2 separate regions of the Homo sapiens genome follow, and region 1 is linked to region 2. Evidence: fine-mapped expression QTL. A gene starts in region 2. The other region holds a variant in brackets. All regions are shown on one strand. Distances are between the middles of the regions.

Region 1 (5,385 bases), 59 kb before region 2:
TGGTCCTTGATATTGTCAGCATTTATGTTCTTAGTTTTGACACAGGGCCAACCTGGATTTGGTTGTGCCATAGGTACATTGCATGTTTGGTACACTACTAAGCCCTTTCAGGATTCATATTGAAGACCTTTCCTCCCGTTCCAGGGAGTCTCACCTCACTCATACCTCGCTGGTCCTCCTGTGTCTCTACTCTTAGGGTATCCCTTGTTTCCAACTTTTCTAGATTGTTTCCTTCAAAAAAATATTGTGTAGCTTCATGTCCTAATTTCTCACCTATACATTTTTATTCAATTAGTTCATATTAATAGTTACCTGACTATCCCTTTTCTCCCTGCAAATCTGTATGTAGTCTATATGGGGACCTGATGTGGAAAATGCTTTTACTTGAAAGAGGAACTTTAATTGGATGTAGGGGGATTGTTAGGTACTAAAGTAGGTAGTTGTGGAGAGGCTGAGATGAGGCTCAGCAGATGGCTGAGGCTTTGGGGCCCCTATTTAATCATACTAGCATATCTACTTTCTAAAAAATTAATTTAAACATTTTTAGGCTGAGCGTGGTGGCTCACGCCTGTAATCCCAGCACTTTGGGAGGCTGAGGTGGGAGAATCACTTGAGGTCAGGAGTTCGAGACCAGCCTGGCCAACATGGTGAAAGCCTGTCTCTACTAAAATACAAAAATTAGCTGGGTGTGGTGGTGCACACTTGTAATCCCAGCTACTCGGGAGGCTGAGGCAGGAGAATCGCTTGAAACCGGGAGGCAGAGGTTGCAGTGAGCTGAGATCACGCCACTGCACTGTAGCCTGGACAAGAGTGAAACTCCATCTTAAAAAAAAAAATGTATTGTGGTAAAAGAATACATAACAAATTTTAGCACCTTAACCATTTTAAGGGTACAGTTCAGTAGTGTTATGTATATTCACGTTGTTGTACCACAGATCTCCAGAACTTTTTCATCTTGCAAAACTGAAACTCTGGCCACATGTGGTGGCTCACGCCTATAATCCTAGCACTTTGGGAGGCCGAGTCAGGTGGATCACCTGAGGTTGGGAGTTCGCGACCAGCCTGACCAACATGGAGAAACCCCGTCTCTACTAAAAATACAAAATTAGCTGGGCGTCGTGGCACATGCCTGTAATCCCGGCTACTTGGGAGGCTGAGGCAGGAGAGTCGCTTGAACCCGGAGGCAGAGGTTGTGGTGAGCCAAGAGTGCGCCATTGCACTCCAGCCTGGGCAACAAGAGTGAAACTCCGTCTCAAAAAAAAAAAAAAAAAAAAAACAAACAAAACTGAAACCCTATACCCGTTAAACTGTAACTCCCCTTTTCCCCTTCCCCCAGCCCTGGGCAACCACCATTAGGAGTATACCTACTTTTGAATTGAGTTGGCCCCTGCTCACAAAAGGCTCAGTTGGGATATTAAAGGAAGACCACACTGTTTTTGTTGTACTTGTTGTTGTTGTTGTTTTTCAACCCAAAATGATTGATAGGGTTTATGGTAGAGATCAGGGACCTGCTCTACCAATTCTATTCTAAGCGGCAGGAATGACCTAAGTAACCATGCCAGTTGATAATAAATGAAATTTGATGAACTCTAGAGGCAAACATGAGTGCTGTGGAAGACCACTTAAAAAAAAAAGGTTCCTTTGGATCTTGCAAGTTCTATGATCTTCCTCTAAATTGTAATAATTCATGTAATCATCAAACCTGGTCTTCCTCTATTTATGTAGTTGGCATTTTCAGGATATAAATACAATAATAGGCTTGATGGTGCTGAGTACATTTCAATAAGAGAAAATAACACTATTAAGTCTATTCAGTGATAGGCGTTAACTTGATATAGCCTTTCTATAGGTATTTTTCAGTTGAATTAAAAAGAAGATAAATATCTCTTAATTAGTACATGAAACGCCTTCAGCATCAAGTAAAGAAGAAAATCCAAGAAGACCAAGGGAAAGTTTGCTTGCCCAGAGGGTTTGGCTTTTGAAGCATTAATCTCCTGAAGGAAGCTCTGAATCACCTTCCTGTGTGTTTTACCATCCCAGAGGAATGTGAGCACACCTCTAGAACCAAGAAAAGGCTTTAGGTCCGTAGGTTTCACTTGCTTATACTTGCCCTGTGGTAGTCTGAAAAAAAGTCCTCTCTCAGGTGTGTTTGTTTTGTATCATTTAAAATAATATAGCTATGACTTGCCTATCATCCCAAGACAATTTTCAGCAATAAACTTCC[A/G]TATATGATTATTGTCCATATTAATTTTTCTACCAGCCCACACATTCTTCAAGAGGCTCATTCTGACTTCATCCAAAGCAAAGGCACAAGTGCACTCCAATGTCTATTGTGTTTTCACCATGGAGTGTTCAGAGACATGAAGACTGCCTCTCATGGCGCACACTTTGGGGCATAGGTGGCATCAGGGCAGGGGTCATGCAGCAGAGCAGCAAGGTGAGGGATAAGATATTAAAAGTCAACAGAGAGAATGGGTTAGAAGACCAAGAGGTTAGACAAGGTCTGAGGGCTTCAGCCATTCTTGGGGGAGAAAGTGGGGAAGGGTCCTAAATCCAGAAAGATGGAATTTAAAGAGCAGTGACTGTGGGAACTTCATGACCTTCTTGTGTCTCATTTTATTATCAGCAAAGTAAAAGAATCAATCAATGTTATAGGTTAAGTTGTGTCCCCTCCCAAAATAATATGTTGAAGTCCTAACTACTAGCACTTCAGAATGTGACCTTATATGGAAATAAAGTCATTGCAGATGTAATTAGTTAAGATAAGGTCATACTGGAGTAGAGTGGGCCCTTAATTCAGTGTAACTGGTGTCTTTATTAGAAGAAAAGAGAAACACACAAAAAGAACTCCATGTAAAGCTAGACATAGAGATTGGAGTTACGCAGCTGCAAGCCAAGGAATGCCTGGTGTTACCAAGAGCTGGAAGAGGTAAGAAAAGATCTACCCCTAGAAGCTTCAAAAGGACTGTAGCCCGGCTGGCACCTTGATTTTGGACTTCTAGCCTCCAGAACTACGAGAGAATAAATTTCTGTTGTTTCAAGCCATCACAGTTTGTGGTATTTTGTCATGATAGCTCTAAGAAACTAATACAGTCAACATCTAAGTTTTCTTTCTGCACTAACACTTTCTGGCCCTGATTTAGAAAAGAATTTCTGATGGATATTGCAGTTTAATTGTGCCAGGCATATTTAATATTCAGTGAAATATAGATGACTATTCCAGGTAGCCTGATGAAATGTATGTTGATCGTAAGTTTTCTTTTCTTTTCTTTTCTTTTTTTTTTTTTTTTTTTTGAGACAGAGTCTCGCTCTGTCACCCAGGCTGGAGTGCAGTGGTGTGATCTCAGCTCACTGCAACCTCCACATCCCGGGTTCAAGCAATTCTCCTGCATCAGCCTCCTGAGCAGCTGGGACTACAGGCGCGCACCACCATGCCTGGCTAATTTTTGTATTTTTAGTAGAGACAGGGTTTCACCATGTTGGCCAGGCTCATCTCAAATTCCTGACCTCAAGTGATCTGCCCGCCTCAGCCTCCCAAAGTGCTGGGATTACAGATGATCATAAGTTTTCAAAGCTCATTCTGGAGAAAGCCACACCTTGCCTAAAAGGTGACATTTTATTTGGCTCCCTGTGGAAAAAGCAATGCTTCCAGTTGGAGATGTCATGCTGGAAGATAGCATGCTTGTTCTGGCTCCAAAAAATTAATGAGTTTTCAAAATGCCTATTGTAGTGGGGAAAAAAAAAGAGTAAAACTCTGTATGATGTCTCAGGCTGAAGTAAAATAGGAAGGAAGAGTGAGAGACACCTCAGTCTGCAGTCAGGAAAAGGAAATCAGAAGAGGTAAGGGAAGAATAGTCTTTTTATTTGAGTCATTAGGTAATTCCTCAAAAGATCAATTCAGGGTCCAGAGAAAGAAGGTACAGCATGTAATGTGTGCAGATAGAAACAGGGACAAAAGATAAGTCATGTTTTACTCTGGTTCATAGTAGTAGGTGATAATAATAATAACAGTTGTGAGAGGCAATCTGCCATGGTCCCTGAACATCCCTGCATGCTTTTGTTGAGTATGCAAAGCCTTGCCTACTCTTTACTTGGGCCATTTCTTCTCTTTCCCTCTCTCAACCTGCTTCTCAAGTTTCCAAGGAAAGGCCATTTCTAAGACATTTGTTTCCAGTGTGCATCAGAGAGGAGACAAGATCTTCAGGGACAAAGAGCAAGCTTGCTTACTGCCCATTGTAAAAGCTATAAATTCTCCAAGCTCAGTGTTCTTCCACTCTGATGCAAACCCACTGTGTACTCAGCATCTACCTGGGTTCCCAAATGTCAAGCCTGTGGAACTTGAGGGCAACGGGGAACCAATGCAAATATGCTGATGCTCATGTTACTTGCTGTGCTGTGAGTAAAATCCTTTACTCCTGAACTCTCATGTCTTCTGCCATCATCCATTAAACTGTGGAAAGCTAATTTGTTAGCTTGCCAGTGGCATAAAATCCCAGATCCTGACAATAATAAGTTGTCTTCATGTACTCTGATTAATAATAGTAACAGGTAATAATAATTTCAAAAACAGTAATTATTCCATTTATTGAGGGCTTCCTATGTGTCAGGCACTGATTTATGCACATTACATAAATTACTCATGTCATACACAGGATAATTTTACTAAGAAGTTAGATGACTTTCCCAAGGTCACATACTCTCTCTCTTATTTATTTATTTATTTATTTATTTATTTATTTATTTAGAGACGGAGTTACACTCTGTCACCCAGGCTGGAGTGCAGCGGCATGATCTCGGCTCACTGCAACCTCCACCTCCTGGGTTCAAGCGATTCTCCTGCCTCAGCCTCCTGGGTAGCTGGGACTACAGGTGTGCACAACCACGCACGGCTAATTTTTGCATTTTTAGTAGAGACAGGGTTTCGCCATGTTGGCCAGGCTGGCCTTGAACTCCCAACCTCAGGTGATCCACCCACCTCAGTCTCCCAAAGGGTTGGGATTACAGGCGTGAGCCACCGCGCCCAAAGGTCACGTACTCTCAAGGCTCCTGACCATTATCATTATTCTTTTTTCCTTGCCAACATCCTTTTTAATCCCCGAATTCTACCTTCTTCCTGTAATTCCTTGTTCACATAATCAAAATGATCATCATGTAAACGTAATGTAAAAATCACTGCCCCAGAGAACTCTTTTGTGTATTTCCTTTCTTCTTCTCAGCACAGTTGTTAATAGCCCAGACCCTGGAGCCAGCCTTCACTCACTAGCTGGGTGACCTTGGGGCAAGTTATTTATTCTCTCTGTGTCTCAATTTCCTTATTTGTAAAATGAAGGATAATAACAGTACCTACCTTATAGGGTTCTTGTGAGGCTCAAGTGGGCCAATATA
Region 2 (5,385 bases):
GTAGCTACTATGCCTTTGATCATTTTTGAAAGGAGTGGCTTAGGTTATTATTTATGTTCACAGTGAGATGATCATCTACGTAGGTTTCTGATTTCACCGGTTGTTTAACACAAGCCACTAAAGACAATATTTGGCCTGGTTGTTGGGTCTGCAAAAAATAAGGTTTGTTAATGACAAAATCTAACACAACTTGTCAATGCAAATATTATTATGAAGCCCTGCTGCTTGTATTTAGACCACAGGAGAAAATTATTATTATTCTACAAACCCGTGAAGTTTAACACGCAAAGGCTTGTTACACAGTCAATGAAGAACAGTTGTTTTCTGCCCTTCCATAAATAACTAATGCCAAGAGCAGCCTGGCTATCTGTTTCAGCTTCTTGTTACAGAATAATAAAATAGGCAAGGCCTAAATATCAGTGCCTGTTAACAGAGCTGTCCTTTAAATTCTGTTTAGCTTCTAACAGACTAATTCTCATGCTTTTAGTACTTATTACATTGCATTTTGAATCTGTCAATTGCATTGTACATTTTCCTAACTCTTCCATTTCCATACGTTTATCTACTCCATTTCTAATTGGGTTGGTAGTTCTGGGTAGGACTCATTACAGAGGCAGCTTAATGTAGCGGCAAGCACCCTGGTCTAGGAGTCATAAGCAGTGTAGTAGGAAATTCAGGCTCTGTTACTACTTAGTTGTGTGACTGGACAAGACACTTAACCTGCATCTATTTCTTCATCTGTGAAATAGGGATAATAATACCCTATCTTCCTAACTAATAAACAACGTTGCAAATGTTCTCTTTAAAATGTCAGACAGCTGCTTGGGAAATATTTTGCTCCTGGGCAGTAATTTCTGGAAGGTTTCTGATGACAAGAAATTAAGCAAGGTTTGTTTTGACTCCGAAAAAGGAAAGCTGGAAATAGCGTGGTTATACTTGGTTTCCTTTTTGGAGGTATAGTTCTTCTTTCCTCTTCAACTTGGGTGCAGTTAAATGTGGAAGAAGGTGAGATGTGGTAGGTGATGAAGACAGCCAGAACTGTACACACTAATGAATAGCTTAAGTAATAAGAGATCTTGAAAATCCAAGTAGTTTCTTGGTCTGATAAACATATCTATATGTATATCATACACACATTTGTATACCAAAAAACGGATAGTTTCAGGCTATAGTGATTTCTTTCCTTTATATCTTGTAGAGCTGGAGGAACTTCAGTAAGCTGAAGACTCTGTTCAGAGGAAATTACCTAATTGAAAATGTCTGGGCTAAGAGACCGACAATAAAGGAAACTGGCAAAAGTACTCTTTAATTACAAGTTCTTTTTCATCTTCATCCAGCACACTGATTTATGTGCTACACTGGGTTTGTATTATATCTATATTTTAATTCCACAACTAGACACTAACTTTATTGAGAACAGCGATATTCATTTCTTCAATTTCATTTGTGTTAACCCAACTGTAGGTGATAGTGCTCTGTACATCATAGTTACCCAGTGAATTACGTACCTGACATATGATTGCTTATTTCTGGTATTAAAACAAGATTTCATAAAATAAACATGACAATTAAACTCGTTGTTTGAAGTACTGAACTTTGTAGGTCAATCTTGAAAAAGGAAGCTACATGACTGTCTTAGCAATATTTATAGGTATATTATATGTAAGTGGGTGGGTTTCTTGGAAATTGAATTGGTAATATGGCTTTAGAGTAGTAACACAAAAACTATAGCTCTGTGCTCTCAGCTAACCACTTTTAGTGTCACCTGGGCTGCTTATTAAAAATTCAAATTTCTTATCCCTACCCAGATCAGAATCAAAATACCTGGGGGTTGTAGCTCCAGGTACCTACATTTCAACAAGCACCCCAGATAATTGTGATGCACACTGAAGAACTACTCTAGCTTGTAATCTCAGGTGGTAAGGCATTTTATATATACATATATATATACACACACACAAGCACAAATGGTAATTCTATGGGAAAATGGAAATCAGCAAGTGAAGTGAAATGTCAATTACCATCAGGAACAGGAAGCTAGTTCACCATTACGCATCAGGGAACTGGAAGAATTCTTGAGATTTATTTTTTTGGGTGATATATTCTTGGCAGTTTATCAGGCCTCATTTGCAATTATGGTCTGTCCCTTTTGAAGCCCTCAGATAGTTCGCTGGCATTTTAATTTTAATAGCAATTTCTTGCATCTGTTGGAACAGCATTCGTATGACCGGCTTATAAGCAATGATCAGGGCTAGTAAGATGTCACAAAGCTGCGGTGACTTTTCCTTATCAGTTGGGGGTTTTTTTGCCATGATACCATCGTGGAAATGAAAGACAACGTGAAAATCCTGCGTCCTTGTGATATTTCATCAGTGGGAGTGAGCGGGGATCTTAACGCAGTAAGAGGCAAGATAAACGGATGAGAGGCATTAGTTCAGGCTTACAGGAGCAAGATGCTTTTAGTCAAAGTGTTCAAGATAGCTCTCTTAAAGAGGAGCAGTGAAACCCAAAAATGAGTGTCTTTTGAGGGCAGCTGGAAGATGACCCGAGGGGAACTTTTATCCTGGGGTGGAGTCCTGCGAAGCAAGCCGCAGGTGAGGGCGTGGGCCAATTCTGCGCCTCACTGCTGTTAGGCGCAAGGACATCCCGAAACACACTCAACGACACCAGCAGCGAGACTGACAGAAGCGGATCGCCAGCGGGAGCAACAACTTGAGGCGAGCCGTTAGCCGCCTCGCCTTCCTCGCAGCGCCCCTCCCGCGCCCCGGGAAGCCCGTTCGGCTCCGCCTTTTCGACTGACGTCCCGGGCGAGCGGGGGCGGGCGCGTGGGTGGGCCGAGCCGTCTGCAGCCAGCGATTCGGCTGGCTCTGCCACACCACCGCGCGCCCCCGCTCCGCCCGCCCCTCCGGGCGCGTCTTTTCCGGGCTCGCGCTGAGTCCCGCCTCCGCCGGCTGTCCGGGTGCGCGCGCGCCGCTGCGGCTTTTTCTCTGGCCTCCGCCGCGCGCTCCTCCTCGTCCCAGCGCTAGCGGGCACGCGGTTCCTTTTTGCGAGCTTTCCGAGTGCCAGGCGCCGGCCGGCTGCGAAGACGCGGTGGGCCGCCCCTCCGGTGAGTATCCCTGGATGGGGAGGTTGCGGCCCCGGCACCCCTGCCCTGTCGGTACCAGGGCCCCATTTCCAGAGGGGGACTGGCGTACCTCACCTGAGCCGGGAGGAGGTTGGGTGGGCATTCCAGCTCCTGGAGTCGGCTCGCTTTTTTCCTTGAGCCAGGGCTATCTATCCGCTCGCCTCCGCTGGGGCCGGGAAGATTCCCGAGGTCACTGTATCTGCTCCTGTGATGGACTCTGGGGTCCTCGGAACCCCAGCCTGCCTCTTCCTGCCGCTCACCGCATCCCGAGGGCCAGAAGTCATCTTCCTGATCGGGGTACTAGGCTTTGCCACGGCCCTTTCCGGAGGAGACCATGAAGTGCTTGCTAGACCTCCAAACGACCTTTAGGGTGCCCCTAAACCTCAACTCCATTTTGTCCCCTCCCAGTCGCTCTGTAACTGAGGGCTAGGGAGCCTCTCTAGCCCTAGAGGCATCCGCCCTCTCGAATTTGAGGGATGCCGTCGCTTCCGATATCTTCCTTGCTTCCGATATCTTCCTAGCTTCCGTAGGCTTAGGTTTGTTAGAAAACAGCTGGATCCTGGCGAAGCGTGCTTTCCTTCCTTCCCCCACCCCCGTTCTTTCTGTCTACATCCCTGCCTTCAGTGGGTGCTATATATTTAGTATGAGCTTTATTCACTTCCTCTTCCTCTCGTTTGAGTGCCTGAAAGAACTGTGGCTGATGTCTATAGACATAGAAAAATCTAGGAGAATATGATTCATTGTCTAACCCCATCAAGGGGTTACATATTTTAAATAAGACGTCATTTCTCCTCTTCACTCCAGCATCTCCTCCTTCAAAGGCATTTTTCACCCTCTTGAAATTAATACGCTCTATTCGCTCTTTTCACCTAAAAAAAGGTCAATCGTCGCTCTGAGAAACAACAGTGAGATGCAAAATAAGGGTAAAATGGCATTGAAATGAATCCCTTTGAAAAAGTAAGCGGTTTGCTTTATCAGTTAATGGTCTCATCAGCGCTTCAGTTTCCTCTTCTGCAAAAATCAGTCTGTTGAACTAGAGCATATCAAAGGTTCCTTCTAGTGTTTTGATTCTAGGACCTCTAAATTCATGCAGGCTGCATAATGCAAATTTAACCTGATTAAAGCCTTATTTCTCATAGTCGCTTGTCACCTTAGTTTTTCTTTTATTTTGTCTCTAACAAGAAAGACTTTTAAATGTTCTTGATACGTAAGGCAGCAGGTGGAGATTCAATGATGGTACTGCCATTGAGCATATCGGTCAAGATTTTAACAGTGTAAGGCCTCTTCCTTAAATTGTAAAATAGCTCATCTTTTGATTGAAACTGCTAAAGTGTAAGACATGTAAGACTCCTGTTAGAATTAACACTCTCTGCCATTTAGGTGGGGGATGAAACATTAAACTGTTAGTATACTTGTACCTTAGAATAAAGTACCTTATTGTCCTGCTATAAGAAATAATTTGACAACTAAAAATCCATGGAAGGTGTAATACAGCAATTGAAAGCTTGAGTAAATTCAATTTTGTGGGTTTTTTTTTTTTTTTGGAAAACCCCCTATTTAAAAACACAAGTGATTTAGATTAAGATATTTCTTTCAGTATTTTTGGTAGGGGTGAGATGGGTGAAGAAAGAAGAGTCTTGTTCAATTCAGACAAGAGAAATGAATTGGAACTCTGGAGAGGCTCAGGTTCTAGACCCAACTCTAGATATATATTTAACCTTGAACAAGTCACTTCACCTCTCTTAGTTTTTGCATCTGTAAAATAAGTGTCTTTATGGTTGTTGAAATGATCCACAAGTCCCCCAATTTGAATGATATATTCTTATAATGAATATATATGACAAATATATATATACACACGTGTATATATAGGTATACACACACACATATAATGCAATTTGCGTTAAGGCTGTTATAAATCCTGTTATACCAGTTGACTAGAATGTTTTTCTCAAAGGTTTGTGTATAGTGGTTTCAATTTAGGTATACTTAGTTCTTAATCCTGATTAAATAAATAATTATATGTGAAAATCTATAAACTCAGAAGCATTTTACAAATGTTGGGTATTATGTTAATTTCTGCTTGCAAGTGAAATGTGTGTTATACCGCACTATTTTTTAAATGTCCATGGCTTTTAGAAATTTATAAGGGAATGGCTGGGTGTGGTGGCTCACGCCTGTAATCCTAGCACTTTGGGAGGCCGAGGCCGGCGGATCATGAGGTCAGGAGATCGAGACCATCCTGGCTAATACGGTGGAAC

The links. PIP is the estimated chance that this variant, and not a neighbour inherited with it, causes the effect.
Region 1: its variant is fine-mapped to the expression of ACSL4 in nasal epithelium (TOPMed, PIP above 0.99).

Annotation. Positions count from the first base shown.
Region 1 is chrX:109,790,050-109,795,434 of GRCh38, reverse strand. No RefSeq gene overlaps it. Among named protein-coding and RNA genes, the nearest start is that of ACSL4, 59 kb to the right of the region's middle. The variant A/G (reference allele first, on the strand shown) is at 2,225.
Region 2 is chrX:109,730,860-109,736,244 of GRCh38, reverse strand. It overlaps ACSL4 (acyl-CoA synthetase long chain family member 4), which reads left to right and starts at 2,988. Exons shown (of 16, transcript NM_001318510.2): 1 at 2,988-3,106. LOC105373311 (a long non-coding RNA gene) reads right to left here and starts at 3,734. Exons shown (of 1, transcript NR_158569.1): 1 at 1,287-3,734. RefSeq lists silencers at 2,726-3,035, 3,133-3,253 and enhancers at 3,376-3,515, 3,576-3,625.